Regions from separate parts of the Homo sapiens genome. Here regions 1, 2, 4 and 5 are each linked to region 3. Evidence: fine-mapped expression QTL. A gene starts in region 3. Each other region holds a variant in brackets. All regions are shown on one strand. Distances are from middle to middle.

Region 1 (6,545 bases), 130 kb after region 3:
AAAAAAAATTAGCCAGGTGTGGTGGTAGGTGCCTGTAGTCCCAGCTATTGGGGAGCTGAGGCACAAGAATTGCTTAAACCTGGAGGCAGAGGTTGCCGTGAGCTGAGATCAGGCCACTGCACTCCAGACTGGTGACAGAGCATAACTTTGAGTCAAAAAAAAAAAAAAAAACTTTTACAAAGCTTTTACAAATTGTGAACTATATCATTTATTTAAAATAGTATGTGTAAAATAAGTGTACAAATTAAAGAATATTAACAACATAAGCATCCATGTTAGTTTATCAGTTCATTCATGAATTTGTTGTCGTTTAAGCAACTCCTTTGTGCTGAGGTCAGCATTTTCCTGAGTGTGCTGCTGAATACCCTGACCTGCTTATTTTAAATGTGGACTTCTGAACCCTTCACAATGTCAATGGAGTCAGCATCTCTGAGAAAAATGCTCAGGGATTTACATTTTTCATAGTAATACCTGGGGGGTTTCATGCAAAGTAAAATTGGAATATCATAAGTGCATATACAGCTTTGCAAATGGAAGGGGAAAGGGTCACCTGGTTTCTCTTCCAGCTCTATGAATTTAGAGACATCGTCTGGTCTGTCTGTGTCCGGGGAAAGGAATAGTCTTTGAGATATTTATGAGGAAGAAAAGGAAGCAGAGTGCCAAGCCCCACAGGGAGTGGTTTTGTCAGTTGCTTTCACCGCAGGCTCTGAGGAGGGGAAGGAATCCCAGGATGAGGCCCTCAGGAGCTTTTATTTATTTATTTATTTATTGAGATGGAGTTTCCCTCTTGTGGCCCAGGCTGGAATGCAGTGGTGGGATCTCAGCTCACTGCAGCCTCCACCTCCCAGGTTCAAGTGATTCTTCTGCCTCAGCCTCTCAAGTGGCCAGGATTACAGGTGCCCACCACCACGCCGGGCTAATATTTTTTGAGACCTAGTCTTGCTCTGTCACCCAGGCTGGAGTACAGTGGCACGATCTCAGCTCACTGCAACCTCTGCCTCCCGGGTTCAGCGATTCTCCTGCCTCAGCCTCCTGAATAGCTGGGATCACAGGTGCCTGCCACAATGCCAGGCTAATTTTTGTATTTTTGGTAGAGATAGGGTTTCACCATGTTGGCCAGGCTGGTCTCGAACTCCTGACCTCAAGTGATCCACCTTCCTCGGCCTCCCAAATTGCTGGGATTATAGGCCTGAGCTGCCACACCTGGCCTAGAGCTTTTAAAACTCACCTCCCCAACCTCACCTCAATTCTGATTCTCCCACATCTACCGACCATGGGTGGATGGGTGAGGGCTGGACAGGAGGAAGTAGGCAGGAAGGGTGTTGGACCTGGTTAAGGAGCTTTTCCCAGTGACAGAGGGTCCCCCTTCCCTGTCCGAAGATCTCTGGTCTCATTACCTTGTTTTCTCCAACTGGTCCTTTTCCTGAGTTGGAAAGTCACCTAGGTGACTTATCACTTATATAAATACTATTATTGGCCAGGCATAGTGCCTCATACCTGTAATCGCAGCACTTTGAGAGGCCGAGGTGGGTGGATCATTTGAATTCATGAGTTCGAGACCAGCCGGGACAACATGGTGAAACCCCATCTCAAATAAAAATACAAAAAATCAGCAGTGCATGGTGGCGTGCACCTGTAATCCCCGTTACTCGGGAGGCTGAGGCATGAGAATCACTTGAACCTGGGAGGCAGAGGTCGCAGTGAACCAAGATCCTGACACTGCACTCTTGCCTGGGTTACAGGGCAAGACTCTGTCTCAAAAACAATAAATACATATATATATACATACATACATAAATGCTATTATTGCTGGGCAATCAATAGGTTCTCTGCCCAATGTGCATAGAGACCAATACCAGGGCACTGGCTTTTGAGAAAAGAAAGTTGACTGGCAAGGAGACAGGAGGAAACTCCCAAATCTGTCTCTCCAGCTGGTGGCTGGGTCAGGTTTTATAAACATAGGGTGGGGAGGTGCAATCTGATTGGATCTTGCAATGTGTTGATGCCAGGAGGCACAATCTGACTGGATCTGGCAGGCGGTGACACTAGAGCTCTATCTGATTGGACTGTGGATCCTGCCATGTGGTGTGCGCTTCTTAATTCAGTCTCCGCTCCTCTGAGCACTTAGGTTCCTCCTGTGGTTGCACAGTCGGTTCATCTGGGCATGCTCAGGTTATGTGACCTTCGACCTGGGGGCCATGACAACTGAAAAACAACTTTGTTACATAAAAATTGAACCAGATTGGTCTGATGTGATTACACTGTCTAGTACTTATAACTATTATGTTAAATCCTATGAAAAGGCAAACATTAAACCCTCTCTTAGAAATGTAATAGTTTCAGGCCTGGTGCGGTGGCTCATGCCTGTAATCCCAGCACTTTGGGAGGCTGAGGCAGGTGGATCATGAGGTCAGGCGTTCGAGACCAGCCTGGCCAATATGGTGAAACCCCGTCTCTACTAATAATACAAAAATTAGCTGGGCATGGTGGCAAGCACCTGTAGTCTCAGCTACTTGGGAAACTGAAGCAGGCAGAAGAATTGCTTGAACCCAAGAGGTGGATGTTACAGTAAGCCGAGATCGTGCCCAGCCTGGGCAATAGAGCAAGATGCCGTCTCAAAAAAAAAAAAAAAAAAGAAGAAGATATGTAATTGTTTCAGTGGTCACTAGAGAATATATCTGAAATGCAAAATTTAATGCAAAAGTGATTTCTCCTGCTAGAGGTTTTTTTTTTTTTTTCAAGACATAGTTTCGCTCTTGTTGCCCAGGCTGGAGTGCAGTGGTGTGATCTTGGGTCACTGCAGCCTTCTGGGTTCAAGCGATTCTCTTGCCTAAGCCTCCCAAGTAGCTGGGATTACAGGCGCCCGCCACCATGCCCAGCTAATTTTTGTATTTTTAGTAGAGATGGGGTTTCCCCACGTTGGCCAGGCTGGTCTTGAACTCCTGACCTCAGGTGATCCTCCTGCCTCGACCTCCCCAAGTGCTGGGATTACAGGTGTGAGCTACTGTGCCTGGCCTAGAGTTTTTTTGAAGAGAGGTTGAGAACACATCACTCGCACCCCATGATACGTTCTGCTCTGAGCCATGCACTGAGCCGTGCGCATCCAGGCTACATAATCAGGCAATTACCCGCTCACAGAGAGGAAACCAGGAGATGTTTCGGGCCACTGCACCACGCTCTGCTGTCTCTCAGACACATTCAGTTGTAAACTTGCTTTTCCTTTGAACCAATATGAACAGGCCTCCAGGAAGCACAATTTGGGGACTAGTGGGGCTTCTTTTCTGAGTGTCAGAGTTCTTCAACCCTTCGAAAGGGGAGGTCCAGGGAGGCCCAGCAGCCCCAACCTCCACTACCCATTATTGATGGTGCTTGGAGCTGAGCCAGGGCCATGGCGGAATGGAACTCCCAATTAGATTCACTTGACACGTGAGAAATTCCGTGGAAACCGGCAATTATAAATGCATGATAAAACTTTCTGCAACAAATGAAAAAGACTAGAAGGACTTTTGAGGACAGTAGGAAAACAAGCCCTAGTGGATAACATGACTTAAGTTCTTTCCTCTTCTGTGCAACTATTTGTCTTCAGCCTTGGGAACCATCTGTGGTTTGTTCTCCAGAAAAGAGATG[T/C]GTGGAAATTCTGAGTATGACCCAGGAATTGTCACTGTTCCTCTTTCTAAAAAATTGAAGTCAGCTTTAAAAAATTATAAATGAAGTACATGCCCATGTAAACACTTCAAATAGAAGGATGCAAAAGATAAAAAATAAAAGTTTTTTCTCTTATACCTCCCGTGACCTAAATAACCACTGTTAATAGTTTCTTGCATGTCCTTCCAGAGTTTTCCACGTACACAAATGTTGAAAATACATATTTCAACATAGCCTTATATATGTATTCACTATTATATGTTCCTTTAAATAATCATTTAGTATTTAGTAACATATCTTGGCATATTTTATTTCAACACATATAGATTAGCTTTATTCTTTTTTTTATTATTATTTTTTGAGATGGAGTCTCGCTCTGTCATCCAGGCTGTAGTGCAGTGGCATGATCTTGGCTCACTGCAACCTCTGCCTTCCTGAGTTCAAGTGATTTCCTGCCTTAGCCTCCCGAGTAGCTTGGAATACAGGCACCCACCACCACCCCCCTCTAATTTTTGTATTTTTAGTAGAGATGGGGTTTCACCATGTTGGCCATGCTGATCTCAAACTCCTGACCTAAGTGATCCACCCTCCTCCAGGCCTCCCAAAGTGCTGGGATTACAGCCGTGAGCCATGGCACCCAGCCAGCTTGATTCTTTTTAATAGCTGCATAGTATTGTCTTTATAGATGTACTTTATATATAAGTTTCTATTGATAGATATTTAAGTTATATCCAGATTTTTAAAAATTGCCAGTGTTGCAGTAAAAATTCTTGATGCATATATTTTTGCACACTTATGCAAATAATAGATATTTCCTAATGCTTTTCATAGAGGTTTTCTGAGGCAGGGTCTCACTCTGTCCCCAGACTGGAGTGCAGTGGCATGATCATGGCTCACTGCAGCCTTGACCTCCCCAGGATCAAGTGATCCTCTCAAGTCAGCCTCCCAAGTAGTTGGGACTACAGGCACATGCCACCACGCCTGGCTAATTTTTGTATTGTTTGTACAGGTGGGGTTTCACCGTGTTGCCCAGGCTGATCTTGAACTCCTGGATTCAAGCAATCCACCCACCTTTGCCTCCCAAAGAGCTGGGATTACAGGTGCCAGTCACCAGGCTCAGCCTCACAGAGGTGTTTATATTTTATCAGCAATCTGTGCAAAAGGACTATTTCTCTACATCCTCATGTACCCGAGGTTTTATTAAATTTTTAAGTCTTTGACAATTGTTGTGTTTAGAAAAGTCTTTTTTGTTTCTTTTCTTTTCTTTCTTTTTTTTTTGAGACAGAATTTTGCTCTTTTTGCCCAGGCTGGAGTGTAGTGACACAATCTTGGCTCACTGCAACCTCTGCCTCCCAGATTCAAGCAACTGTCATGCCTCAGCCTCCCAGGTAGCTGGGATTACAGGCACGCGCCACCATGCCCAGCTAATTTTTGTATTTTTAGTAGAGACGAGGTTTCACCATGTTGGTCAGGATGCTCTCGAACTCCTGACCTCAAGTGATCGGCTCCCCTTGGCTTCCCAAAGTGCTGGGATTATAGACATGAGCCACCTCGCCCCGCCCTTTTTTGTTTCAATATGCATTTCTTTCATAAGCGTTCCCATCTCAGTCTTTTTGCAAAAATAATGCAAATCACATTGTGTAAAGATACCTGCAACTACAAAAAGAGGACTGGAATTCAGCAACGTTTTGTGGATTGAAGTGTCCCTCAATCTCACCATTTCCACCATCCAGGTAGTTTCACGAACCAAGTGGCTTTGGAGAAAAAAATCCAACAGGGTAGACCAGAAGATGGCTTATTTATAAACCAGTGTGCTGATGAAAAAGCATTGATGTTGGCATCCAGACACAGCTCAGACTCTCACTGCTCTTGCTGGCTCTGTCCACAGGACACTGATTACATAGACGTGGTGACAGCAGGGACACTCTGCCATCCCTATGCTAACCTGGCATTGCAACCTGAGCAAAGCCAGGCTCATGTGAGGAGCAACTTCCTAAAGCAATCTTTTGTTTTTACTTTTTTGGGGTTGGCAGGGCTAACAGCTGTTTAGAGGTTTATAGTTAAGGCATGGATTAAGAGTCAGCTCATTCTCTTTATCTCAGCTCATCTGCCCCTTAAATGATCCTATTGGGTATCACAGCAGGTATAGACTTAGCAGCAGATCTAGGGCACGGGACGAAGAGGGAAGAGCAGTGGATCTGTCAATCCGTGCACAGATTTCCAGCTGCTCACCATATGCCTTAGTCATCTTTAGAGGCCTCATTTGCTTCCTTTCACATGGCGGAAATTCCCAGGCAAATGACTTCTCAACCCCATGCCTCCAGCTCTACCTGGAGTTTAAAGGTGGCCATCAGGGATCCCAGAGAGCATCAGATAAGGCCACTAGAAAACAGGCAGGTTGGGAGTCTTGCACCTGCACGGGGCTGGGCCCAGAGCAGCTCAGTGGCAGCCTCTTCCTTCCCAGATATTTTTCCTTGGGCCACACGGAAAAGGCACCATGTAACATATTGGTTAATCCTCAGGCTTATAACCTGATATGCTGGGGTTCAAATCTCAGCTGATCCCATTAATTGCTGTGTGGCCTAGAGAAAGCTACATAACCTCTCAGCTCCTCAGTTTTAGGGATGATCATCATACCTAACTCACAGGCTATGAGGGTTCATGTGGGACCATAATGTACCAGACCACTGCTTGGCCTATAGCATGTGTTCAATCAATATTGGGCTGGTGTTATTGCAACTGGCATGTGACACACCAGCTATACTAGTGTGAAAAATCTATATTTCACTTCCACATCTGAGTGACAGTGAATTACTAACTCCAGGATTCATCTGAAATCAGCTCTTTTTGTCACCAGCTTGACCTACTTAATCTGATTTACTACCTTACTTGTTTTTCAT
Region 2 (6,545 bases), 42 kb after region 3:
ATGCGAAGTATGATATGCCTTGTCTATAACAAGAGCCTCAATTTAACATTTACAATTTAGCATAAATTTTTTTTTGAAAAGGTGGGGCCAAGCACAGTGGATCACACCTGTAATGAGAGCATTTTGGAAGGCCAAGGCGGGAGGTTCACTTGAGCCCAGGAGTTTGAGACCAGTCTAGGCAACATAGCAAGACCTGATTTCTACAAAAAAAAAATTAAAAAATTAGCCAGACGTGGTGGTGTGCACCTGTGGTCCCAGCTACTTGGGAAGCCAAGTGGGGAGGATCACTTGAACTTGGGAGGTTGAGGCTGCAGTGAGCTGTGATCCACTGCACTCCAGCCTGGGTGACAAAATGAGATTCTGTCTCAAAAAAAGTGGGGGGTGTTTCTTAGGGTTTTTCATGAGTTTGGTTAGAAAAGATTCATTCATTCAAAAAGGAATGAATTAGGCACTGATCGAGGCAGTGAGGAGACAACAGCAAAGCAATAAAGTTCCTGGCCTTACTGTAGTAAAATAAATTAGCTTAGAAAAATCTCAGAATTAATGTTGACAAGAATCTTCTTGGAGTTACTTATATTCCATAAATTTTCCATTATATTATATTCCACAAATAAATAAGAATGTCTCGCATTTCCAAACCAGAGACAGGTCTCCATTTGGATTGTTTGCTATAGCTTGCTGTAACAAATGACTATGTACGTGGTGACTTAAAACAACACAAATTCTTATTTATAGTTTTAGATGTTAGATGTTTGGGTCTCACTGGGCTACAAGTCAAGGTGTTGGCAGGGCCTCATTTCTGCTGGAGGCTCTCAAGGAGAATCCATTTTCTTGCCTTTTCCAGCTTCTAGAGGCCACCTGCATTCCTTGGCTCACGGCCCCTTCCTGCATCTTCAAGGCAGCAACAGCCCTGAAGACTGTGTCCCACGGCATCACTCTGACACTGACTCTCCTGACTTCCTTCTTCACTTCCGAGGACCTTTGCGATTACAAAAGTCCCACCTGGATAGTCCAGGATAATCTCCCCATCTCAAGGACAGCTGACTCGCAACCTTAATTCCCAACTGCCATATAACTGAACATATTCACAGCTTCCAGGGATTGGGATGTGGACATTTTTCGAAGAGGAGGAGAGAGGGGGCATGATTCTTCCTACCCCACATATTGCTAGAGCAATCAGGCCAATGAGCCCAGTCCACATGCATGACCCCAGTATGAAGCCTGGCATACCACCATTTCTAGAAACCAGCCCTCAGCTGGGCACAATGGCTCATGTTTGTAATCCCAGAATTTTGCAGGGCCAAGGTGGGAGGATCACTTGAGGTTAGGAGTTTGAGATCAGCTTAGGCAACACAGTAAGACCCCATTTCTGCAAAGAAAAAGTTAACCAATTAGCTGGACATGGTGGTGCATGCCTGTGGTCCTAGCTTCTCAGGAGACTGAGGCTGGAGGATCATTTGAGCCCAGGAATTAAAGGTTACAGTGAGCTACAATTGTGCCACTGCACTGCAATTGTCTCTAAAACAAAACAAAACAAAAAGAACAAGAAGAAACCAGCCCTCTCCAGGCTAGGATGTTACTCCCACCCACACAGACCCCCAGAACCTCACAAAGCACACCTCTGCTCTTCCACCAGTCCCACTGTAGCAAGTTTCCATTTCCTGTCCATCAAACCGTGTTACATCTTCACCCTCATCTGTTCTAAGAATAAAACTAATGATTTTTTCCCCCTTATCCACCCTCCCAATAGAAAAACCATACCGTTTCCTCCAGTCTTCGCCCAAGTGTTACACAAAGACTTGTTCATGATAGTAAAGATGTATTCATGGGTATCTTATTGCTACATGACTGATCAGTCCAATTGCCCATAGAACTGATGTTTATGGTTTCTTTTGAATAAACATAGAAATTGACCCTTCCCAGTCTTGAAACATAAGAAAGTTACATTTGTCTTATCTGAGCTCCTTTCTCAGGAAACCAACCATCAGTCCTCTGAGATAGTATCACAGAGCTGAAACTTACCAGATTACTGCATCTGGGCAATAAAACACCAGACCCCTCACCCATCATGATAACTACTGACCCCCTGCTTCCTGTTGACCAATTCCTCATCCTTACCTCTCTCTAATTCCTGTTTCCCATGCATGGTTACATTTCTTCCCTGCTATATAAACCCCTAATTTTAGTCAGTCAGAGAGATGGATTTGAGACTGATCTCCCATCTCCTCACCTGCAGCACCTGAATAAAGCCTTCTTCCCTGGCAGTACTGATTATCTCAGTGATTGGCTTTCTGTGTGGTGAACAGCAGCAGGATCAAGACCGAACCACTGGTGTTTTGGTAACATTACCTCTCAGTGTCACCTAAACACATACACACTCATTCATTCTTCTGTTTTTAAGTGGAAAAAAAAGAGTGTGTGTGTGTGTGTGCGCACACGCACAATATAAACTCTTTGAGAGCAAAGACTAACTTAATAAACACAAATACTAGGTAAATGCTAACCAGCTTACCCCCAATGCAGAGAGCTTACAAAGCAGT[C/T]TTTGAGCATGATGATAAAGTAAAACATGTTTCTGGAACTGCACACAGAGGTTTGCAGAGATTTCCTCTTGTCAAAGGTAAGTACAAAAAAATCCACAAGGGTTTGGCTGGCTCCAATGGAGCAAGAGAGGTCACTCTGGGCCCTGAGTTATCACCTTAAGGGGCCGGAGCAGCTGGCAGTTGGAACACTGAGCTGGACATTGGTTTGGAGAAATTAGAGCTAGCTTTTTCTGCTTTTGACAACAGCCTTGACCACACAAAGGGCTACATTTAGGTTGGCATTTGCCTAGGATGTAACGCCCATTTGGCCGTTTGGAGTCGATTTTCCACCCCTCTTTTCCTACTGGCACACAGCTGTGACCCTTGGGTCTTGGAAACACCTGTGGAGATTTAGCCTTGGTAACAACAGAGTTCTTCCCAGGTCATCAGAACCCATCTGCCTCCTAGACTAGAGATCACTTACTTACGGACATTTCTAAATAAAGGATGACAAAGTAACTGGATCAACTACATGTTTAATCATTGCTATTTAAATGTGATCATTTCTCAATTTCAAATTTAAAAAGTGTAAACTTAAGGAAAGAGAAATAATGCCAGGGACTAAATAGTATTAAATCTCCCTCCATGTGAGTGCCCCAGATGTCCTATTCTATAAAATTCTCCCCCTTCCCTTTTTGCCTTCAGCTCAGCAGACACCCTTTGCTGGGAACTCAGATGCCACAAAGATGCATTCACTTTCCACCCCCAAGTAGTGTTTCCAAGCATGCAATGTGAACGATGCTGGAAGGCTTCCATTCCTCCTGCCCCTTTGTCTTGTCATGTACAGGCGATATCCCCAAACCAAAGAAAAAATTCTGCCAAGAGAACCAAGCATGACCTAGCCCTGAATGCTGTCAGTGCTGCTCGGAATAACACCTGGGTCAGAATGACAGGGTCTCACTCTTGCCCAGGCTGGAGTGCAGTGGCACAATCATAGCTCTCTGCAGCTTCAAACTCCTGGACTCCATGCAATGGAGCCCACGTAATCCTCCTGCCTCAGCCTCCTAAGTAGCTGGGACTATAGCTGTGCAGCACTATGCTCAGCTAATTTTTATTTTTTTATAGAAACAGGTCTCACTATATTGCCTAGGCTTCTCTCAACCCCTGGGTTCAAGCGATCCTCCATCCTCAGCCTCCCAAAGTGCTAGGATTACAGGCACGAGCCACTGTGACCAGCGAGGATACATTTTCATTGGCCACTTACTGTCGGATTCCCAATTCCATAAGGAAAGAGGGAAAGGGATGGCCCTTTCCACCCAAGTGCTGTGTAAACTACATCAGGAGCTCATTTGTGCTTGATGCTCCTCCTTCAGTGATCACATCTTAATGTTCTACCTTCAACTCAAAGAAACTACAATGTTCAAGCAGGAAGCCACCCCAGCAATGATCCTGCCTACCTGCCCTCAGTCTAAGGTGCAGAAACATTTGTCTAAAATGGGCAAATATCACTAGAAAGTCATTTATCTTCCTTTTAGAAGTGAAGCCAGGGTCTACCTTATCTGAAAGACAAAGGCTCTAGAACAGCAATCCCCAGCCTTTTTGGCACTGGGGACCAGTTTTGTGGAAGACAATTTTTCCATGAACCAGGGGTTGAGGGGGATGGTTTCAGGATGATTCAAGTGCATTACATTTATTGTGCAATTTATTATTATTACATTGTAATATATAAGAAATAATTATACAACTCACCATAATGTAGAATCAGTGGAAGCCCTGAGCTTGTTTTCCTGCAACTAGATAGTCCCATCTAAGGGTGATGAGAGATAGTGACAGATCATCAGGCATTAGATTCTCATAAGGAGCATGCAACCTAGCTCCCTCAAATGCGCAGTTCACAATAGGGTTCATGCTCCTATGGAATCTAATGCTACTGCTGATCCGACAGGAGGCGGAACTCAGGGGGAAATGCAAGCAATGGGGAGCAACTGCAAATACAGATGAAGTTTCACTCGTTCACCTGCCGCTCACCTCCTGCTGTGCAGGTTCCAAACAGGCCACAAACCAGTACTGATCCATGGCCCAGGGGTTGGGGACCCTGCTCTAGAATCTTGCTAGAAACCCTGCATCTGTGAATGGCAGGTGTATGTTGATTTAGCCAAGAGGCTGTTCCCTGGAGGAATTCTGTTCAGTATAATGCAGGTAACTAGCCTGAGTAAGAAGAATCAACAAGCTTTTGTCCAAAATGAAATTAGTGAGCAGAGTAGAAGCTGGAAGATGTGTGGGGGATATTAAAACCCCTGCTCCCTTCTCGTCCATTGCTTCTGCAGCTCTCCTCTCACATTTTAGGTTGAGGGTACCCTGAGTTGACCTGAGCTGCATGACCATCTCCCAGCATTGGTTTGCTTGTAGCAGCCTGTGTATAAAATTAAAAACACCTGGGTGGCCAGGCACAGTGGCTCATGCCTGTAATCCCAGTACTTTGGGAAGCTGAGGTAGGTGGATCAACAGAGGTCAGGAGTTCGAGACCAGCCTGGCCAATATGGTGAAACCCCATCTCTACTAAAAATGCAAAATTAGCCTGGCATGGTGGCGCACGCCTGTAATCCCAGCTACTTGGGTGGCTGAGGCAGGAGAATCACTTGAACCTGAAAGGCAGAGGCTGCAGTGAGCAGAGATTGTGCCACTGCAATCCAGCCTGGGCAACAGAGAGAGACTCCGTCACAAACAAACAAACAAACAAAACAAAAAAACACCTGGGTTTAGAGCTGCTTGTAGGCAACTAAGGGGACTAACTTGCTCCACTAACTTTTACTAAATTCTCAAATGTCATGGTAAATAAAAATGACATATATTTGTGAGAAGAGAAGGTGCAGGTAATGAAGCCAGTGAAGCCACAATTTAAGAAATAGTGACAACTCCTTTCCACATGCAAGTCTCCTCTGCATCAGATGGGACTTCTTCATCAAATATGTTATTAGAAAAACAAAAACCTAAAACCAAAAGCATTGAGTACAGATTGGAAAGTCTGAAGATGAATGATTAGAAAGCCAGCCACTTTTTTTTCTTTTTTCTTTTCCTTTTTTTTTTTTGAGATGGGGGTCCCACTCTGTTGCCCTGGCTGGAGTGCAGTGGCGCTGATCACGGCTCACTGCAGCCTCGTCTGCCCAAGCTCTAGAGATTCTCCTACCTCAGCCTCCTGAGCAGCTGGGACCGCAGGCACACACCACCATGCCCCGCCAAGCCAGCCACTTTCTAAATACCTTTCTGTTGGGTGGCACTGCTAGAGGTCAGGGATCCAGTTCCACCTTTACAGAAGTTCGTTTACAGAAGCCCGAGCTACACCATTGCACAGAATATCCATGTCACAAACCTGTACATGTACCCCCTGAATCTAAAATTAGAAAAAAAAAAAAGTCCAGGTCAGGCTCAGTGGCTCACACCTGTAATCCCAGCACTTTGGGAGGCTGAGGCAGGAGGATTGCTTGAGCCCAGGAGTTCGAGACCCTCGGCAATATAGCGAGATCCTATCTCTCCTAAAAATAAAAAATTAAAAATTACCCGGCATAGTTGCATGTGCCTGTCATCCCAGCCACTTGGGGGGCTTAGGTGGGAGGATCTCTTAAGTCCAAGGGGTTGAGGCTGCAGTGAGCCGTGACTGTGCTACTGCATTCCAGCCTGGGTGACAGAATAAGATCCTATCTCAGTAATAATAAAAGTCTGTTTAGTCAAGGAGATCAGCACCAGAAACATACAGACTGGCACATGTTCTCATAGGCGTTCTGTCCACTCTCCCCGTCCCACCAGTGGAGGTGCATATGACCCAGCTAGCTTCTTGGAGGAGGCACCTGAATGGCATCTTTAGTGATCAGTCAGATGCAGCCAGTTGAGAAGGAAGAGGGAAGGTGTTCCAGGTAGTATGCAACACGAGGCCTGGAGCCTGCTATTTTCAGAAAGTTGATAGGAATTACACATGCTACAGCATGGCGCATGGGCAGGGGGCCGTGGGATGGGAGCCTGCACCAAATG
Region 3 (6,545 bases):
GCGCTTTAACATAAAATTGCAATGAGTGTCCTAAAATCCCAGGCAGCTGCAGATTCAGGAGATGATTCCAAGGCTGCCTTTGTACCCTAACAATCACAAGGCTCCTAGCAGCTTACTCTCCATAACGCTCCATGTAGCCCGAGAGCCCTGCATGCTGGAGCTCACCAGACATCCTTATAAAAATCCCAAGGGCCCTTTCCTTTGGATGCAATTCCTCAACTGTAGAATATTAAATAACTCGCCGGGTGTGGTGGCTCATGCCTGTAATCCCAGAACTTTGGGAGGCCGAGCGCTGGTAGATCACCTGAGGTCAGGAGTTCAAGACCAACCTGGGCAACATGATGAAACCCTGTCTCTACTAAAAATACAAAAATTAGCTGGGCGCAGTGGCATATGCCTGTAATCCCAGCTAGTAGGGAGGCTGAGGCAGGAGAATCACTTCAGCCCAAGAGGTGGAGGTTGCAGTGAGCTGAGATTGTGTCATTGCACTCCAGCCTGGGCAACAGAGCAAGACTCCATCTCAAAAAAAAAAAAAAGAAAAAAGAAAAAAAGAATACTATATAACCCCAGGTGTTGCCAAAGATGTTCACTCTGAATTGAACTCCAAAGTCTTCCAGAAGTCTGTTTATCACAAAACAGTCTGTCTCCAAAGTAGAAGCAAAGATAAAGAACTGTTTGTTGAATGGCTGACTGATGTCCACTGCAAGCTGAGCGCATTAACCAAATTTCACTTGGAAGACTATGCATGTGGCAAAATTAAATGCACCAATAGTACTAAATAAAGGTAGGCAGGAAGGCACCTAATGTACTACAATAGCTTGTATAACATCAGCCTCATCCAGTGATCAAGGTGACCAAATAAATTATCTTTAACACACACACACACACACACACAGAGTATAGACTCCAAAGTTTCCATTGTAAGACAAATTCTCTGACACTAGTGCACACTTGATGCCCTGGATCCTCAAGACATCACCGGGTGCCGGGTGCAGGGGCTCACGCCTATAATCCCAGCACTTTGGGAGCCCAAGGTGGGCGGATCACGAGGTCAGGAGTTCAAGATCAGCCTGGCCAACATAGTGAAACCCCGTCTCTACTAAAAATACAAAAAAAAATTAGCTGGATATGGTGCCAGGTGCCTGTAATCCCAGTTACTTGGGAGGTTGAGGCAAGGAGAGTCACTTGAACCTGGGAGGTGGAGGTTGCAGTGAGCCGAGATCGTGCCACTGCACTCCAGCCTGGGTGACAGCACGAGACTCCATCTCAAAAAAAAAAAAAAAAAAAAAAGACATCACTGGTTTTGGTGAGAAGAGACAGCACACATCTGCCTGGCACTGGGCTGCTCTTCTTTGGAGACAGAGGGTACAATTTATATCCTGCAGTTTTACTCAACAGGGGATACCACCAGCAGTTTGGCCAGGGTAATGCTGTATGGGACTGTCCCCTACACCATGTAAATTGGGCATTTACAATTCTTAACCACATCCTCCCAAATGCCAGTGAGTCATTGAGAAAACCTGAAACACCCCCATGCATTTTCAAACGCCCCCTAGGGTTGCCACACTATCTCCGGTGAAGAACCCTCGCAGTATTCACCGATGAAGTTCTTCTCTATAAATACTCTGTTTTCCTACCTGGTAAAAATAATGACTGCCCGTACTTGTCCATCTGATGTGGTATAAAGAAATAATCTTTTTTTTTTTTCAAAGAAGCAACACGTCAAATAAGCCTTCTATGTTCTAGAGTTCACTGCTGTTTTTCAGCAGAAACAAATCACTGAGCTAAATTACAAAGAGACCATAGCAATCTCCAGGGCTTTAAAAGGCTGATGCAGTATTTTTTCTTGGAGAATTTAAAAATAAAATGCAGTTCAAACTCTAGAACCTACAGTGAGGTTTTTCTCATAAATTCTGGAACATCGCAAGTTCTAGAAATCAAGCCCTGAAGAATGAGAGTACCAAGGCAAAGAACCCTCAGAACAAAGATTATGCAAAAGGATCACTGGTGATTTTCTATTTTTACATGAATTATAATGGCAGTGAAATAAAACTTGCCCTTCTGAACTCCACCCCCATACTTGTGCTACGATTATTAAAGTACGTTGCATTGTGAATATACTTTAATTCCAAGACTTTAAGTGCTAACATTTAGACAGAATGTACTAAGTTATATTAATCAAATTTTTAGTATTAAACCTTTCTCTACCATAAAGTAAATCCTTTAAAAAAAAAAAAAAGTCCAATCCTTCTCAACCCAAGAAATATGCCCAAGGGTATCTACAGGAATGGCTGCAGTAACTGGCAAACGCTGGCAGGAATTTTCCAATGACTGAAGTCAACAAATCCTCAGGAAACATGCTCAGACAGATGGCACTTAAAAAAAAGCAAAAACAAAAACAACAAAAAAAAACCTACTGCATTTAGATTTATAGGAAGATTTTTCACTTACTTCAAATTTCTGTATAATCCTCGTTCCTCTAAGTTAAAGGGGGAAAGAAAATCACACTGCAATTCCTTATTTTTCTAATTTAAAAAACAAAACAAAACACGTTATACCCTCGAATCCAGCTTTTGATGTCTTCGAGTATTTTCTTGGAGTCTCTTTCCAATGAATACTACTTTCAAATTCTAAGCACAAAGTAAAATCCCAAAAGTTAGCCCAAATAGCGTTGTACAAAATCAAAGATCACGATGTCAGCAAGCAACTGCATCTATCAGAAGCGATGATGATTCAGAACAGGATAAATTTAGAATGGTGTTTTCCAAAAGGCTTTTTGGATGTCAAATTCAGGAAACAGGTAAAGGCTACATCCCAAAAGTTCCTCTCCAAAAAGAACGCCAAAATATTAATAAAAAGAGTCTTCTTTTTGAAGTTTTTCGTCCCCTAGTGTCCTCGAGGCTGAACTTCCCCAACCTGGCCTCGGTGGAGCCATCCATTACTGGGCAAATCCACATGAAACCTGAGGACACTTCAGCCTGGGGAGGACGCAGTCAGAGCAGTGAAGCAACTTCACATGGGACGGGCCTTTTATGGCCTGAACTCGAGAGCCTTGATACCAGCTCATCTACCAGAAATAGCCCTGGAAATTCAGAGGAGCCCATCAGCTGTTGCAGCAGGCCTGGCCAGCAGCTACTTCAAATGCAATTAGGTTGTCCACACTGTCTTTCAGCTTGTTGTATAGAGAAATTAAAAATACAACAGCAGTCTACTGAATAAGCTACAACAATACAGATTTGGATGAGCAAACATTTCTCTAACTTAGTTTTTTTAGGCTAAAAAAAGAGCACACAATCGTTGACAAAGCTCAGACACTGAACACCCCAAAAGTAAGTAACAGACATATATACAATGAATGCCCGAAAAGTAACTAACAGACATACACATCTATGAAACAGCATGATATAATGGCACATGTCTCTACAAGTTTACAAATTCTGTAACCTCTGTGGATTTCTTCCCACTTCCAATAACTGTAGAAAATGAATCATCAGAAGAAAGCATTGTGCTGGAAGTACTTTCTCGAAAATGACACAAATATTTTCTCTTAAAGCCAAAGTCAGTCCTCTGAACTGGCAAGATCTATCTTCCTATGGCTCTCAGGTAGCTCACCTCACTGAAAAACCAGATGAACCTAACCTAATGAAAAAAATATTAACTATGAAGCACAACCACTTCTTAAATGGCCATATGCATTTTTTTAAACATTAAAAGGCCACTGACATGTTGAATACACTCAAACAAATATCACAACCCTGTTTACAAAATACTTACAATTGTAGGTCTCTGTCCCTGTCGGTACCAAGAACAGAGAGTCTTAATTGTCTGCACCAACTTCAGTATAAACCACAAACCCCATAAGACTTGGGCTGGAGTACAGCAAAAGCTGTGTGCTGCGCGGGGCCTCCCAGTGGTATGCCTCTGGGTGTCAGGGTTCTCAGACCACCAGCTGCTTCGGCCAGCACAGGAGGCCTCTCAAAGCAGGATCTAAATTCCTGTTACTAATTAACCCTACAGAACAATGCCTCTCCCTAAGAGGACAGTCCTGAGGCCAGGTGAAAAGATGACAGGTATAATAATTAAACATTGGCTTCATGACTGTTTTGTGCTAGGGGTATTTGTCCCAGTCAACTGTTTTTTTTTTTTTTTACCCATCTCAAGATAACAAACAAACAAAATTTCATAGCATGGCTTTTGCATCCTAATCTCAGTCCTGACCCTGATCTTCTTTTCCCTTGGACCATATTGGCTTTTTCCTCATTTTAAAGTTTATTTGATCTTGTTTTACGTATTTTTATAAGCTGTGGTAAGCCCCTCCCTAGAGAAAAGTAGGGCAAAAATAAATAAAAACTTACATGAAACAGTTCACTATTTGGGTCTTCTCTGTAAAGAGAAGATAGGAGGAGAAAATGAATCACTGTTACCACAATAGTGCTATTTCCTTCCTAAAAAAAGATTCACTCCCACAAAATAAACATCAGTCTTTTGTGTGCCTCTTAAGTTTTTGCACACTGCTTCCCCATAGCAACCAAACTGTCCTAGATTAATACACTGGAGTCTAATAGGGTAAATCTCCTTCGTCACTTCTTTTATATATCCTTTCTGTCTTTGATTATTTAAATCCCAGTTAATTCTTCCTGTGCAATCCATTTACTTTCCTAATTTTTTTGCTATCTGCCTGGCTTAGAAGACTCATCATACTCACTTCTTTCCAATGATGATAATCATGAATTGGAAGAAAAATCAACACACAAAAGATGTCAATTGTCCCCAAACTGATCTACAGATTAACAAAATTCCTATCAAAATCTTGCAAGGTTTTTTTGTTTTGTTTTGTTTTGTTTTGTTTTTTTGAGACATGGTCTTGCTCTGTTGTCCAGGCTGGAGTAGAGGTGTGCAATCATGGCTCACTGCAGCCTCAACCTCCCCAGGAGGCAGTCCTCCTGCCTCAGCCTCCTGAATATCTGGGGCTACAGATGTGCACCACCACACTGGGCTAATTTTTTAATTTCTTAGTTTTTGTAGAGATGGAGTCTCATTAGGTTGGCCAGGCTTGTCTTGAACTCCTGGGCTCCAGCTGTCCTCCCACTTCGGCCTTCTTAAGTGCTAGGATTACAGGTGTGAGCCACCCTGCCTGGCCTCACAGTGATTTTTGGCAGATATTCTAAAATTTATAGTAAAGGTACAGGCCCTAGAATAGCTAAAAACCATCTTGAAAAAGAAGAAAAAAGTTAGTCTGGGCGTGGTGGCTCATGCCTGTAATCCCAGCACTTTGGTAGGCCGAGGCGGGTGGATCACCTGAGGTCAGGAGTTCGAGACCAGCCTAATGAACATGGTGAAACACTGTCTCTATCAAAAATACAGAAAAATTAGCCAGGCGTGGTGGTGCACACCTGTAATCCCAGTTACTAGGGAGGCTAAGGCAGGAGCATCGCTTGAACCCAATCCTGGGAGGCAGAGGTTGCAGTGAGCCAAGATCATGCCACTGCACTCCAGCCTGGGCCACAGAGTGAGACTCCGTCTCAAAAGAAGAAAAAAGTTAGAGCAATGAATCTATCCCATATTAAGGCCTACTGGATAACTACAGTAATCAAGACAACACAGCATTGGCAAAAAGAGAGACACATAACATAGATCAGTGGAACAGACTGGAGAACCCAGAGACAGGCCCACATGAATATGCCAAACTGATTTCTGTGCCATTCAACAAACAGTGCTAGAGCAATTAGACACCCCTAGGCAAAAGCAATGAGCTTCTACCCAATCCTCATTGTGGTACATCCATACCATGGAATACTACTCAACAATAAAAAGGAACAAATTATTAGTACGTTCCACGACCTGGATAAGAATCCAGGGAATTAAATTATGCTGAGTGACAGAAAGCCAATCCCAAAATGTTAGATACTATACGAGTACACTTACATAGCATTTCCCAGATGACAACATTATAGAAATGGAGAAGAGATGGGAGTTGTTAGAGGTTAGGGATGGGGATGAGGTGGTTTAACAGGGCCACATGAGAGACCCCTGTTCTGGAACTCTTCTATTGGATTGACCACATCAGTGTCAATATCCTGGTTGTGATACTATTGTATAGCTTTGCAAGATGTTATCACTGGAGAAACTGGGTAAAAAGCCCTCATGATCACTTTGTACTATTTCTTACAACTACATCTGAATCTATAATTATCTCAAAATTAAAAGTTTAAGCAGGGCGGGGTGGCTCACACCTGTAATCCCAGAACTTTGGGAGGCTGTGGCGGATGGATTACCTGAGGTCAGGAGATTGAGAACATCCTAGCCAACGTGGTGAAACCCTGTCTCTACTAAAAATACAAAAATTAGCCAGGCATGGTGGCTGGCATGTGCCTGTAATCCCAGCTTCTCGGGAGGCTGAGGCAGGAGAATTGCTTGAACCCGGGAGGCGGAGGTTGCAGTGAGCTGAGATCATGCCATTGCACTCCAGCCTGGGTGACAAGGGTGAAACTCTGTCTCAAAAAAAAAAAAAGTTTAATTAAGTATTTTTTCCAAGGAAAAAGCAT
Region 4 (6,545 bases), 79 kb after region 3:
TCGTGCCACTGCACTCCAGCCTGGGTGACAGAGCAAGACTACGTCTCAATAAATAAATAAACCTCAAGGGAAAACAAATGCCACCAACAAAAAGCAGGAGAGACATGGTTCAAATGCGCCATGACTGGACAGGTGACACTACTCACGCCTGTAATCCCAGCACTTTGGGAGGCCAAGGTGGGCAGATCACCTGAGGTCAGGGGTTCCAGACCAGCCTGGCCAACATGGTGAAACTCCGTTTATACTAAAAATGCAAAAATTAGCCAAGTGTGGTGGTGCACCCTGTAATCCCAACTACTCAGGAGGCTGAGGCACAAAAATCACTTGAACTCGGGAGGTAGAGGTTGCAGTGAGCCGAGATCACGCCATTACACTCCAGCCTGGGTGACACAAAGTGAGACTCTGTCTCAAGGAAAAAAAAAAAAAGTGCCATGATTTAGAGCAACTGGTAAAAATTAGCAGAATGAACTCAATTGGAAAAGATATTAGAGCAGCTGGGCACGGTGGCACATGCCTGTAATTCCAGCACTTTGGGAGGTCAAGGCAGGTGGATTACAGTACATGTACTAAAATTGGAATGATATACTAAAATTGGAAGATCAGCATGGCCCCTGCGCAAGGATGACATGCAAATTCATGACGTGTTCAATATTTTTTATATATTTTAATAAAAATATAAAAATTTAAAAAATTTTAAAGAAAAAGATATTAAGAACTATCTATTTTGAGTGATGCTGCAGTTGTGATATTAGAATTATAGAGAGGGAAGTATAATCACAGCAAGCACTGCTTGGCTCTTCTACAGACAGTATTTACATTAACACTGCTCATTGGCTTGTGCTGCGGTTTGGATATTCGACCCTTTGGAACATTGTTGAAATCTGATCCTCTATGTTGGAGGCGGTGCCTAATGGCAGGTGTTTAGGTCATGGGCGTGGATTCCTCATGAATAGATTAATGCTCTTTCTGGGGGGCGGGGAGGCAGTGAGTGAATTTTTGCTCTATTAGTTCCCAGGAGAGCTGGTTGTTAGAAAGAGCCTGCGACCTTAGCTGGTTGTTAGAAAGAGCCTGGGACCTTCTTCCTCTCTCTCTTGCCTTCTCTCTCGCTATCTGATCTCTGCACATGCCAGCTCCTCTCTGCCTTTCAGTATATGTGGAAGCAGCCTGAGGCTTTCCCCAGATGCCCAATCTTCCAGCAGCAGAATCGTGAGCCAAATAAAACTCTTCTTTATAAATTACCCAACCTCAGGTATTCCTTTATAGCAACACTAAAGGGACTAAGACAGCTTGCAACCTTTAGACTCAATCAATGGGCAATGCAAGGAAAATATTTCCAGATAGAGAAGGCAAATGTTATCAGACTCAACACTGTAAAAATAAAGACATAGCTGAGAAAAGCTGAAAGATGGACAACAGGAAAAGAGAGGAATGCGGAAGGTTAGTGGTACTAGTCCCCTCATCTTATAAAATTTGGCACCTAATAGGTAGGAAATAAATGCAACAAGATATAGAGGTTTATGAACATTAAAACTGCAATGGTAGGGCTGGGCACGGTGGCTCAGGCCTGTAATCCCAGCACTTTGGGAGGCTGAGGCAGGTGGATCACTTGAGATCAGGAGTTCGAGACCAGCCTGGCCAACATGGTGAAACCCCGTCTCTACTAAAAATACAAAAGAATTAGCTGGGTGTGGTGGCGGGCACCTATAATCCCAGCTACTCAGGAAGCTGAGGTAGGAGAATTGCTTGAATCTGGGAGGCAGTTGCAGTGAGCCAAGGTGGCACCACTGCACTCCAGCCTAAGCGACAGAGTGACAGTCCATCTCAAAAAAGAAAAAAGAAAAAAAAAAACTGCAGTGGTAATCAAGAGAGGAATTCATGTACTGATAAAACTAAGAAGTTGTACATGCCTCTGTGTGTGTGTGTGTGTGTGTGTGTGTGCATGTGAACGTGGTCTATCAAACAGAGGCAACCCAAAGCACATACATCAGAAACGGCTGAGTGAGGAGTTATACAACTATTAGTAATAACCACTAAAATAATTTTAACAGGAACCATTAAAAATGTGTTGCTTCTGGAACAAAGCTATTGCTTTTCATTTACAGCATTCCTCCACGATCTGATTTTTTCAGCCATGTTCATGAATCACTTTGAAAATAATCCTGTGTGTAGGAGTCAGCAAATTTTTTTTTTCTGTAAATAACCAGATGGTAAATATATTTTTGGCAGTATGGGCCATACAGGTCTCTGTCACAACTCTGCAACTTGGCTATTCTGGGGCAAATAGACAATTCATAAATGAATGAGTGTAGCTGTGTTCCAATAAAACTTTATTTACACAACAGGTGGCAAGAGGGATTTGGCCTGCAGGCTGCTATTTGCCGACCACTGATCTATTCCAGCATTTCCCAAACTATGTACTACAGGATACTCCAATATACTTGAAGCTTTTCCTCCAAAAGAGGGAGAGTTTCCAGTTCAAAGAGTTTAGAAAATGCTAGGTTTAAAAATGTTAAGCAGATTTCTTTACTTCAAGGCTTCTTGCAGTCTCTAATGTGCTTATGAGCTTTTGGAAGCCAAATATGGAATAGAATTCAGCACACAGCATTTCTCCAATTTCCATGGATATACTGGAGAAGCACCCAATCAATGATATCTCAAGGGCCACTAGTGTTGGGTGGGAAGGCTTGGGAAGCAATGTCATCATCTAATTCCTACCTTGTATAGACAGAAAAATGAGGTTTAGAGAGTGGGAAGTTACTTGGCTGAGGCTACTCACCTAGACGGTGTCAGAACTGGGACTGGAACCCAGGCAGCTTAGGGTTGTTGCTGCCATTTCAGAGGGCCATTCCTTCATTTAGATGGCCCCATAACAAACCAGTGCAAAGCTATCCTGAGTCATCTCCATCCCGAGGGATTTTCCGGAAGGCACTTTGAAATTACA[T/G]AACGACATAGATGAACCAATACTTAAACCTCAAAAAAGGCGAAGACTATGGGTTCAGATTTTATTATTTTATTTAGAAACAACATGAGGTGAGGTGAACTGATTGGACACATTCACCACGAGTCTTTCCTAATTTCTAATACAAGGTGGAGCAATAGAAAAAAATAGAAAATAAGGAGAACAAAGTCTTTTTCTCAACTTTTTTAGGATTCTAGACTATACTATTCAGTGTTACTAAAGCACACTTTGTATTTTATGAATCATCAGTGATGAGTAAGTACAGATTAAGCTCTATCTGAACATGCAGCAGTGTACAAAGCACAGAGCAAGAGTTTTGGAGATAAAAGAAAGTTTAGGAGGATCAGAGACAAAAGAAAAAGGCTTGGCCGGGCGTGGTGACTCATGCCTGTAATCCCAGCTCTTTGGGATGCTGAGGTGGGAGGATCGCTTGAGCTCAGGAGTTCAAGACCAGCCTTGGGAACATGGTGAGAGCCCATCTCTACAAAATAATTAAAAATTAGCTGGGCATGGTGGCACACAGCTGTGGTCCCAGCTACTCAGGAGGCTGAGGTGGGAGGGTCACTTGAGCCTAGGAGGTTGAGACTGCACCACTGCACTCCTGCCTGGGTAACAAAGAAAGACCTTGTCTGAAATTAAAAAAAAAAAAAAAAAAAGAAGAAAAAGAAAAGAAAAAAGAGAAGGAAGGAAGGAAGAAAAAGACTTGAGAAACCTAAGATCTAAGTAAACACCCCTAATATTTTGTGAAGGCAGTACAAAAATATGAACCAAAGCAATATAACTCTAAACAAAGAAAACGGTCAGAATATAAATTGAACTTTAAACAAAAAAAGAGGAGGAGTTTAATCAGGGTCCAGGCAAGGTGAGTATATCCACTCTGAAAATAACATCTTGGTTCATAAGTTGGTTTCTGAATTCTAGAATGCTTTATATCATTATTTTGTATTCAACACACAAACCACCCATTCCATTTTCTTCATATTTTTCAGGTGTCATTTCATAGCCTATGATGATTAATTGAGATGGATTTTTGAAAACCTTCCTAGCCAACTTAGCTAAGGGACAGCTTTCCCCTAACACTCTCGTGATTGGTGTGAAAATGAAACCTGCTCCTTCCAGAACAATGAGAATGCTACCTCTGCCGACAACATTCCCATCCAACTAAGATCAAGCCAGATTGCTCTTGAGTCATTGGTTAGTAACCCATGGGAAGAGGAAGAGTAGCTGCAGTTGACCTATAAACTCTGCCTTGGCCTTGTCCCAAGCTAATCCCTATTACATCCCACAGACTGTCCCTGGAGTCAGAAGTTGTCCCCAGACTTGTCCTAATGGCCTAGCACAGTGGGAAGTTGTCCAAGAGTCATGGTCATCAAGAGACCTTCAGAGACCACTTAATTGTACAAGACTTTATTTGCCAAACTCCTAAAATTCCTGAGTGCCATGGGACAAGGCAAGGAAGATGTAGTTGCTGGGCAAGAAAAGTGAGCAACCATCTAGTTATTGATACAAGGTTCCTAGGTTCAAATGCAAGTAGCCCCTGGCCTGTGCTGTCCAATACAAGAACCAATGGGCACACATGGCTACTTAAGTTGGTGAGTGCAACTGAGGAACTGAATGTCAACTTTTAATTAATTTCACATGATTTTATTTAAATGTAAAAACTGAAGCAATGTAAAACATGTTCCATTAAACATTAATGCATTGCTTTGGTAGAACTACATTTTACTTTAAATACTATATTGCTTAAAATATTATTTGGTGCATTGTAGCAGATGAGTCTACAAAGGAAAGCATCACTGATCTACTTGGTGTCAATAAAGTGTTTCCATTTAAATGTTTTTTTCTAAACACTGATGTAACACTGTAATGTGTTCATATGAATATTTTACACAGACAGCACAAGTTATGGTGATAACTATGTAAATCATAATTGGTAATTATATCAAAATACTTGTTTTAATTAAGATATAATTACATTGTTTCTCTAGTTTATAAAATAAATATGGCCAATTTTTCTAATTTATCACTTTGAAAATTTTGTAGCAGTCCTAACACAGAGACACTTTCCAAAGCCTTAGGACTGATACAAAATCCAGTGGAGACACAGAAATTAATAATACAATCAGAACAGTCAAGAAAAAAAGAGACAGGAGAGGAAGGTAAGCAAAAAGCAACATAATCAATGGCAATTATAACTTGCTGTGGCAGAGCAAAAGGAGAAAGCTGTGTGTTACATAAAAAGTCAAAGATAATAAAGCAGAAAATATTAACAGACAATTTCAGCAAAAACATAATGAATTTGATGCCATCTCCCCTCGACAGTCAAAAACAGATCAATGAAATTAGTCACTCAAAATAAGAATGGCCAAAAAAATTGTTTTAATGATTTTTTACATCTCAGCTCATAACTCTGGCCAGTTATAAAACATCTTGGATTCTTGAAGCAGTTTATGGAACTGCTGAAAGAAATAGAAAACCAGAAATGATTGATCATGTGTTCTTTGCCAATGATCTCTGGTTGAATCATAGAAGAATTTTTACAAACATTCACTGTACAGTTAACTACAATGCAGGATTTTCTTTACAAAAAAAGAATGCTTGCTGAAGCAAGAAATGAAGACAAAAATAGGCACTGTGGGCTGGGAGCCGTGGCTCACGCCTGTAATCCCAGCACTTTGGGAGGCCAAGGCGGGTGGATCACAAGGTCAGAGATCGAGACCATCCTGGCTAACATGGTGAAACTCTGTCTACTAAAAATGCAAAAAACAAAAATTAGCCGGGCGTGGTGGGGGGCCCCTGTGGTCCCAGCTACTCGGGAGGCTGAGGCAGGAGAATGGCGTGAACCCGGGAGGCGGAGCTTGCAGTGAGCCGAGATCACGCCACTGCACTCAAGCCTGGGCGACAGAGCAAGACTCTCTCTCAAAAAAAAAAAAAAAAAAAAAAAAAAAAAAAAATAGGCAGTGTGATTTATGTTTTTTTTCACAGATATCACACACTATATATGAAAGAGCTAAATTTAAAGTTTCAAGGAAAGGAAAAACTTACTTATGACCTAGCTAGAGAGGCAGGAGAATTTATGTCAAAATTGACATTTTTCATAAGAGAAGTAAAAAATAATGGTTTCATACATTTTTGTAACTTGAATCAATATGTGGATGACTTCACTGAAATCAAAAGCATTATATAAATTGCCTTCAAAATCCATAAGAAAATGTTGGGGAATACTTTGTTGATATTGATAAATTTAGAGTTAGTTTTTCCATTTTTGCAATATTCCTTTGAATTTAATGTCAACAATTCTGAGCTGGCATAAGAGTTAGTGAATTTGCCTAAGTTGAACAGATGTAGCTTTGAAACTGATATTTTTTGTTTCAAAAAGTCAAATTAATTATTCTAAAAAAGATGAACCAGTTTTGTCAAGTTGAATGCGAATATCGTGGAGAATGATTTTTTGATGCTGAGTTCAGTTGCTGGAGAACTTGTATATTTGGGGTTTGGTTAACAAATATACTTTTTCAACTATAAATTTTATAAAAGCTAAATATAGACCAAGTATTTCAGATAAAAATGTAGTATCTGATAGCTA
Region 5 (6,545 bases), 52 kb before region 3:
AATGTCTCAGTATGAGTCCAGGTGAGACGTGTCACCTCCCAAATTGACAAGGTCAAAAGCTAAGGCGTTAGATGACAGTCACGGTATTAAACCTTCAGGGACTGTGTAGCGCAGGTCACAGCGGCAGCTCAGACTTACAGGGAGGCTATTTGGGGAGTCAGACGCTGTCACTTGTTCTGGCTGATGACACACAAGCACCCCTGCAACGCTGTCCTTTGAGGCAACTCTCCTTTGGGGGCCATCATCCTGGGGGAGAAAACGAGGGCAAAGCCAAGGGAAAGGGAAGTAGCCAGCACTTCCACTGCAGCCAGCCATTTCCCACCAGGGCCGAACAGGATGGTGCCTGTGACCTCCCCTGGCTCATCACTGGGGGGCGGATGCAAGGCTGAGGGTCCTGGAGTATTTAATTCCTTTAGTCTTCTCGGTGACTTATCCTCATATGCAGATGAGAAAACCAGGATAGTGCCTGACCTAGGATAGATACATCAAGCGTAGACCAACAACTTAAAATACATCTCTGAAGGCAAAACAGGGCCTGGTGGTGGCTTATGCCTGTAATCCCAGCACTTTGAGAGGCCAAGTCAGGAGGATTGCTTGAAGCCAGGAGTTCGAGAGCAGCCTGGGCAACAAAGTTAGACTCTGTCTCTACAAAAAATTTAAAAAAAAAAAATTTAGCTGGGCATGGTGGCACATGCCTGCAATCCCTACTTGTAATCAGCTGCTTGTGAGGCTGAAGTGGGAGGAGCGTTTGAACCCTGGAGGCCAAGGCTGCAGTGAGCTATGATCACGCCACTGCACTCATCCAGTGTGGGCAACAGATTAAACCCTGTCTCTAAAAAAATTGTTTTAATAAAGGCAAAACAGCCATTCCCTGGCCAGCCACAACAAAATCAAAGAGGGAAATAGGATGGTGAGGTCAGGATAAAATGAGAGAACACGTATAGAAGCACTCCAAAAATGGACTGCATTATTTAATCCACACAAGGAACTCCGTATTGAAAAGGGATTCAGGTGCACTACATGCTCCTCCAGAGGTCCGTACGATGTCACCTCATGTCACCTTGTTGTGCTCAGTGAACATCAATGAAAGCACTCCCAGTCTACAGGAAAATGAGCTGGAATGAATGAATTAACTAATTAATGTATGTATGTATGTATGTATTTATTTGAGACAGGGTCTGGCTCTGTTGCCCAGGCTGGAGTGCAGTGGTACAAACACGGCTCATTGCAGCCTCAACCTCCTGGGCTTAAGCCATCCTTCTACCTCAGCCTCACGAGTAGCTGGGACCACGCCTGGCTATTTTTTGAAATTTGTAGACATGGGATCTTGCCATGTGCCCAGGCTGGTCTCAAACTCCTGGCCTGAAGTGATTCTTCCACCTTGGCCTCCCGAAGTGCTGGGATTACAGGCGTGAGCCATCAAACCAACCATGAGCTGGAATTTAAATGTACAGTATAGGGGAGTGTGATATTATGACTAGCAGTTGTCTGAATACATACTGACATGACTTATCAATACATTTCCAAAATCAAGAAGTGCTATGGAAATGATTTTAATGAAATCTACTATAAGCTACTAATGATGATGGCTGGAGTGAAATTCCAAAGTGAAGAACATATTTTCATAGCCCAGTAAAGGAGCATTTTGTATGCTAGCAACAGCCATAAATGGTATTCTCATTTTCTTTGGTGGATTTTCTTTATGTGTGCAGATCCTTAATCTGAGGCAGAACTGCCTGACCTGAGAAAATTGCCCCTAGGGAAAGCCCACTTAGGCCCTTTCATTTCCCCTTGATCACATCTCACTGGTCAGTCAGACTTTCCAGATTCCTCATTTTAGTCTAATTCTCCTCCTGCGTGCACTGTGAGATGCTCTGTGAATTTTGGTTAGTGGTAATATTTTGGACAAGCGTGCAAATAAAATGTTGCATTACATCACTGCATAAGGTAATTTGAAACAGACCACATAGGTGGAGATGAAAAGGCAAAGTACGTTCAATAAGAAATGTTGCAAGTCACAGCTATTTTTTCTTTATCGGATGTGTTGAAAGAAAACCATGCCAGCCTTTCTAAACTTCAGAATTCTTTTTTAAAGAAAAGGCTTATTGCAATCACCTAAAAGACTTATTAGTGTCTTTAAAGTTAATGTTCAAAAGAGTAATGTTAACATTTGTAATGAAATTATCTCCAATCGTTTTAGTTTCTGGTTCATTCCAAATCTATGGCTAATGACTCTTGGAAAGAAAAATTCAGGTACCTCAGAGGAAGAGAGAATGGTCAGCTGATTGTCAGAAAAGAAAGACATAGGTCAGTTCTGTGTTTAAATTACACACTGAATATACATATGATGGAATATTATTCGGCCTTAAAAAGGAAGGAAATTCTGATGCTTGCTACAATGTAGAGGAACCTTGAAGACATTATGCTAAGTGAAATAAGCCAGTCACCAAAGGACAAATACTGTACAATCCCACTTATATGAGGTTTCTAGAACAGTCACATTCAGAGACAGATAGTAGAAGGGAGTTTATCAGGGGCTGGGCAGAGGGAAAATTGGGGAGTTGTTGAATAGGTAGAGTTTCCATTTGGAATGATGAAAAAGTTCTGGAGAGGGATGGTGGTGATGGCTGCACACTGTGAGCGAATGCACCTAAATGCCACCGAACTGTTCACTTAAACGTGGTTGAAATGGTAAATGTCATGGTGTGTATATTTCAGTGCAATCTACAATAAAATGTACACTGAGGGCAAATCACAGCTGACATACAATGCAGGCACATGCTGAGCACCTGGAGAACAGCTCTTGTGAGGGGCACATGGCCGGCCCACCACTTGCCAGAGGCCAGGAGACGCCAAGGACGATTCTGACCTGTTCAAAGCCCCAACCCACAAAGGGCTCTTAAACAATGATGTGACGAATAAACATAAAACTAGCTGTTCCCAGGAACGGTGGCTCACACCTGTAATCCCAGCACTTTGGGAGGCTGAGGCAGGAGGACTGCTTGAGACCAGGAGTTAGAGACCAGCCTGGGCAACATAGTGAGACCCCCATCTTTACCAAAAACATTTTAAAATTAGCCAGGAATGATGGTGTAGTTCCAGCCACTCAGAAGGCTGAGAAGTGAGGATTACTTAAGCCCAGAAATTTGAGGCTGTGGTGAGCTTTGATCATGCTACTACACTCCAGCCTGGGTGACAGAGTGAGACCCTGTCTCTAATAATAATAATAATAATAATAATAATAATAATAATAGTAAACCTAGGTGTTCACTGTATGGGGTCTGTGGCTGCATCCCAGGACATAAGGTGCAGCATGCCACACCTTCAGAGCTGCGGGGGCCCATGCCTCTCCTCTCGTGAGAAGAAGACCTCATGCAGAGGGGAAGGGGCTGACTTGATTACAATCGTCCAGGGAGAGCGGAGAAGGCTCTGCCAAATCCAGTCATTCAGTGCTCACTACTTGATGGTTTTCACATGAACAGAAAGCAGGGAAACACTGAGTC[G/A]TCACAGAGGAGAATTTCCTGTGAGTCTAAAAGTCCAGATAGCAGACAAGCACATATATAAAATGTCTGTTGGTACCAGATAGATCATAGCTGTTCTAGAGCTAGACTCCAATAATTTGAAGGAAAGTTTCAAATAAAGTAATTTCTGGCTCTCCTTGTTCTCAGAAGGGCATCTTAATAAAGTAACAACAATGACAATCTCAGCAATAATAATCAGTATGAAAATGCAAGAAAAGCTCATCAACCTGTGATCTCCAGTGTCACCCTTGTTTTCCATGGGTTATTTTTTATTTTTTGAGACAGGGTCTGGCTCTGTTGCCCAAGCTGCAGTGCAGTGGCACAATCACAGCTCACTGCAGCCTCGACCTCCTAAGCTCAAGCCAATTCCTCCCACCTCTGCCTCCTGAGTAGCTGGGACTACAGGGGCCCACCACCACGCCTAGCTAACTTTTGTATTTGTTGTAGAGATGGGATCTCAACATGTTGCCCAGGCAGGTCTCAAACTCCTGGGCTCAAGCAATCCTCCCACCTCGGCCTCCTAGAGTGCTGGAATTACAGGTGTGAACCACTGCACCCGGCCTCCATGGGTTGTATTAACTGGTACCCAAGACCTACCAGTCTTTCAGAACAGGTCCCCAGCCCCTTGCTGATTGATGCGGGGTAGGGGAGGGCGTGTTTGTGATATTTCACACTTTCATGATTGGCTTTCTTCATGGTCATATTATTGCACCAGGAAAGCAGATCCCGTGCTCACAGTGCAGGTGCCTTGGGGAGGTCATGACACAAAATAAATCAAAGGCACATTCCACACTGTCTGTTGAAATGACTCAAGACACGTTTATGCGTGGGTGTAACATCTGATTAAGCAAAGGATATCAAACTTGGGTGGCCCTCAGACCACTTGCGGTATTTGTTTAAAATGAAAGTCCTCCCACCACAGGTGATTAGGATACGCCCACAGAATTAGAAAACCATGAATACAAGCCACCGATGATATAAAGCCTGGGAAGAAACAGGGAAACAGCATAATCAGATGGGGTGAGTGTGACGAAGGAAGGCTTCCTGGAGGACGAGACTGGAGAGCTTACTTGTGGAGGAGATGATGGCAATAGGTGAACAGGGAGGCCATGGGCCCTCACCTCCGTGCCAGGAAGAAGAGCGGACAGTGTGGGAGCTGGAACTGGGAAGAGGCCTAACCGGGGCGTGGGCTTAAATGGTCCCATCCCTCTGCATGGTAAATGCGCCTGACAGCAATCACTTAGGCACACCCTGAGAATGGCCCTGTATGGCAGCGGCACCTGCATGGGGTTCAGGGTTCCAAGCTAAGGAATCCAGGAGAGGCCAACTGGAGATTCGTTCCTTATCTATGAGGAACATCTGAGCAGCTTCCCTGCCCTGCTGCCACCACTGCATGCACAGGGGGTCTGGACTGTTTGTTTTGGGGTATGTGAAGGCTGCCAGGTGGAGATTGTCGGGGAGGTGCCAAGTGGACATGCTATTGCTATATAAACTGCATGCCTTTTGAAAGCGGTTGTGGTTCTCCCACTCAGCCCGCTGCCACTGGACTCTCTCCCCTGTATGCAAGCCCACAACAGAACCCCGTGCCTCGTTCACTGGCTCTGGGTCTCCTCTTCGGCCTCTTTAACCTGCGGCCTTCCCATGGAGTCGACACGGGTTCGGCAAGACAGCCACCCACATTCAGACGGAACGTGCTGTGGGCCCAGCCAGGGCATTCTGAGGTGGGAAGGGAGGCCGTGGACAGCCCGTGAAGAAGCATCAGAGCCATCCCTGTAGCCCAAGTGGAAAAAGAAAATTCAGATACTTGTCACACCCAGACATCAAGCTGGGATACATCATGCTGCTTGGTCTTCAGGTGGTGAGAAAATACATTAAAGAAATAGACAGGGTCTTGCTCCATCACCCAGGCTAGAGAGTGCAGTGCTGCAATCACAGCTCACTGAAGCCTCGACTTCGGGTTTGAGCAGTCCTCTCCCACCTCAGCCTCCCAAGTAGCTGGGACTATAGGTGCACATCACCATGCTCAGCTAATATTTTTATTCTTCTTCCTTTTTTTTTTTTTTGAGACAGGTTCTCCCTCTGTTGGCCAGGCTGGAGTGCAATGGCATGATCATGGCACATTGCAACTTTGATCTCCTGAGCTCCAGTGACCCTCCCACCTCAGCTGGGACCACAGGTGTGTGCCACCACACCTGGCTAATTTTTGTAGAGACAGAGTTTTGCCATGTTGCCCAGGTTGGTCTTGAATTCCTGGGCTCAAGTGATCTACCTGCCTTGGCCCCACAAAGTGCAGATATTACAGGAGTGTGTCACCATGCCCAGCCTATTCCTTATAGAGACAGTGGCCTCACTATGTTGCCCAGGCTGGCCTTGAATTCCTGGCCTCAAGAATCCTTCCACCTCATTCTCCTAACATGCTGGGATTATAGGCATGAGCCACCACGCCCGCCAAACTATTTTTTTAACAAGAGGAGAAAGTGAATTTGTGCTTTCCCTGAACAGCAAGCAGCAGATATAAGCAATGAAAAGAAGACAACGAGGACACCGCTCCATGCTCAAAAGAGACACCAGCAGAGCTGAGCCAGCAGCATCTCAGATGTCATCTCCCAACTGTGCTAAAAATACACACACACACACACTCTGAATCTGACTCCAGCAGTAAGAGCGTCCCTGTTCTCATGCAGCAGCTTATGAGCCCTGGTGCCCCAAGATCTCTGGAGGGAGGGGAGAACTGAAGCCGGGGTCCGGAGCAGTCAGGAGTCAGAGTGAGCCGCGGTTCGCGTCTGTCTTCCCGGCAGGTGTCCGACGCCTCAGCTCAATGAATGAGAAGCCGCTTAGACAAGGGATGTGAGCCAGAGCGCTCTGAGCGCGGTCACTGCCCCATCCTGAACGCAGGCTCCTCCAGGTGTTCGTTTGCCTCATGTGCAGCTTTGGTCCATGAGCCATAACCCATAGAACCTGAGGCATCTGAACGAGCATTTCAGTGCAGGAAAGTGCCGTCTTCACTAACTTTCAGCTACTGCA

Which allele goes with the higher level. Alleles are on the strand shown, and positions count from the first base shown. SD is a standard deviation of normalised expression in the study named. Not every link is listed here.
As copies of G replace A in region 5, the expression in fibroblasts of the gene that starts at base 3,003 in region 3 goes down (moderate effect, 0.40 SD a copy in GTEx).

What was found.
Region 1: its variant is fine-mapped to the expression of SVIL in whole blood (INTERVAL, PIP 0.98).
Region 2: its variant is fine-mapped to the expression of SVIL in whole blood (TOPMed, PIP above 0.99).
Region 4: its variant is fine-mapped to the expression of SVIL in fibroblasts (GTEx, PIP above 0.99).
Region 5: its variant is fine-mapped to the expression of SVIL in fibroblasts (GTEx, PIP above 0.99).

The regions. Positions count from the first base shown.
Region 1 is chr10:29,759,996-29,766,540 of GRCh38, forward strand. No RefSeq gene overlaps it. Among named protein-coding and RNA genes, the nearest start is that of SVIL, 130 kb to the left of the region's middle. The variant T/C (reference allele first, on the strand shown) is at 3,628.
Region 2 is chr10:29,673,964-29,680,508 of GRCh38, forward strand. It overlaps a transcript of SVIL not described here. Among named protein-coding and RNA genes, the nearest start is that of SVIL, 42 kb to the left of the region's middle. The variant C/T (reference allele first, on the strand shown) is at 2,541.
Region 3 is chr10:29,631,969-29,638,513 of GRCh38, forward strand. It overlaps SVIL (supervillin), which reads right to left and starts at 3,003. Exons shown (of 38, transcript NM_021738.3): 1 at 2,452-3,003. RefSeq lists a silencer at 2,812-3,106.
Region 4 is chr10:29,711,353-29,717,897 of GRCh38, forward strand. It overlaps a transcript of SVIL not described here and the pseudogene RNU6-908P. Among named protein-coding and RNA genes, the nearest start is that of SVIL, 80 kb to the left of the region's middle. The variant T/G (reference allele first, on the strand shown) is at 2,942.
Region 5 is chr10:29,579,517-29,586,061 of GRCh38, forward strand. The region is part of intron 1 of SVIL (supervillin); the gene reads right to left. Among named protein-coding and RNA genes, the nearest start is that of MIR938, 20 kb to the right of the region's middle. RefSeq lists enhancers at 4,514-5,015, 5,016-5,515, 5,793-6,293, 6,294-6,545. The variant G/A (reference allele first, on the strand shown) is at 3,504.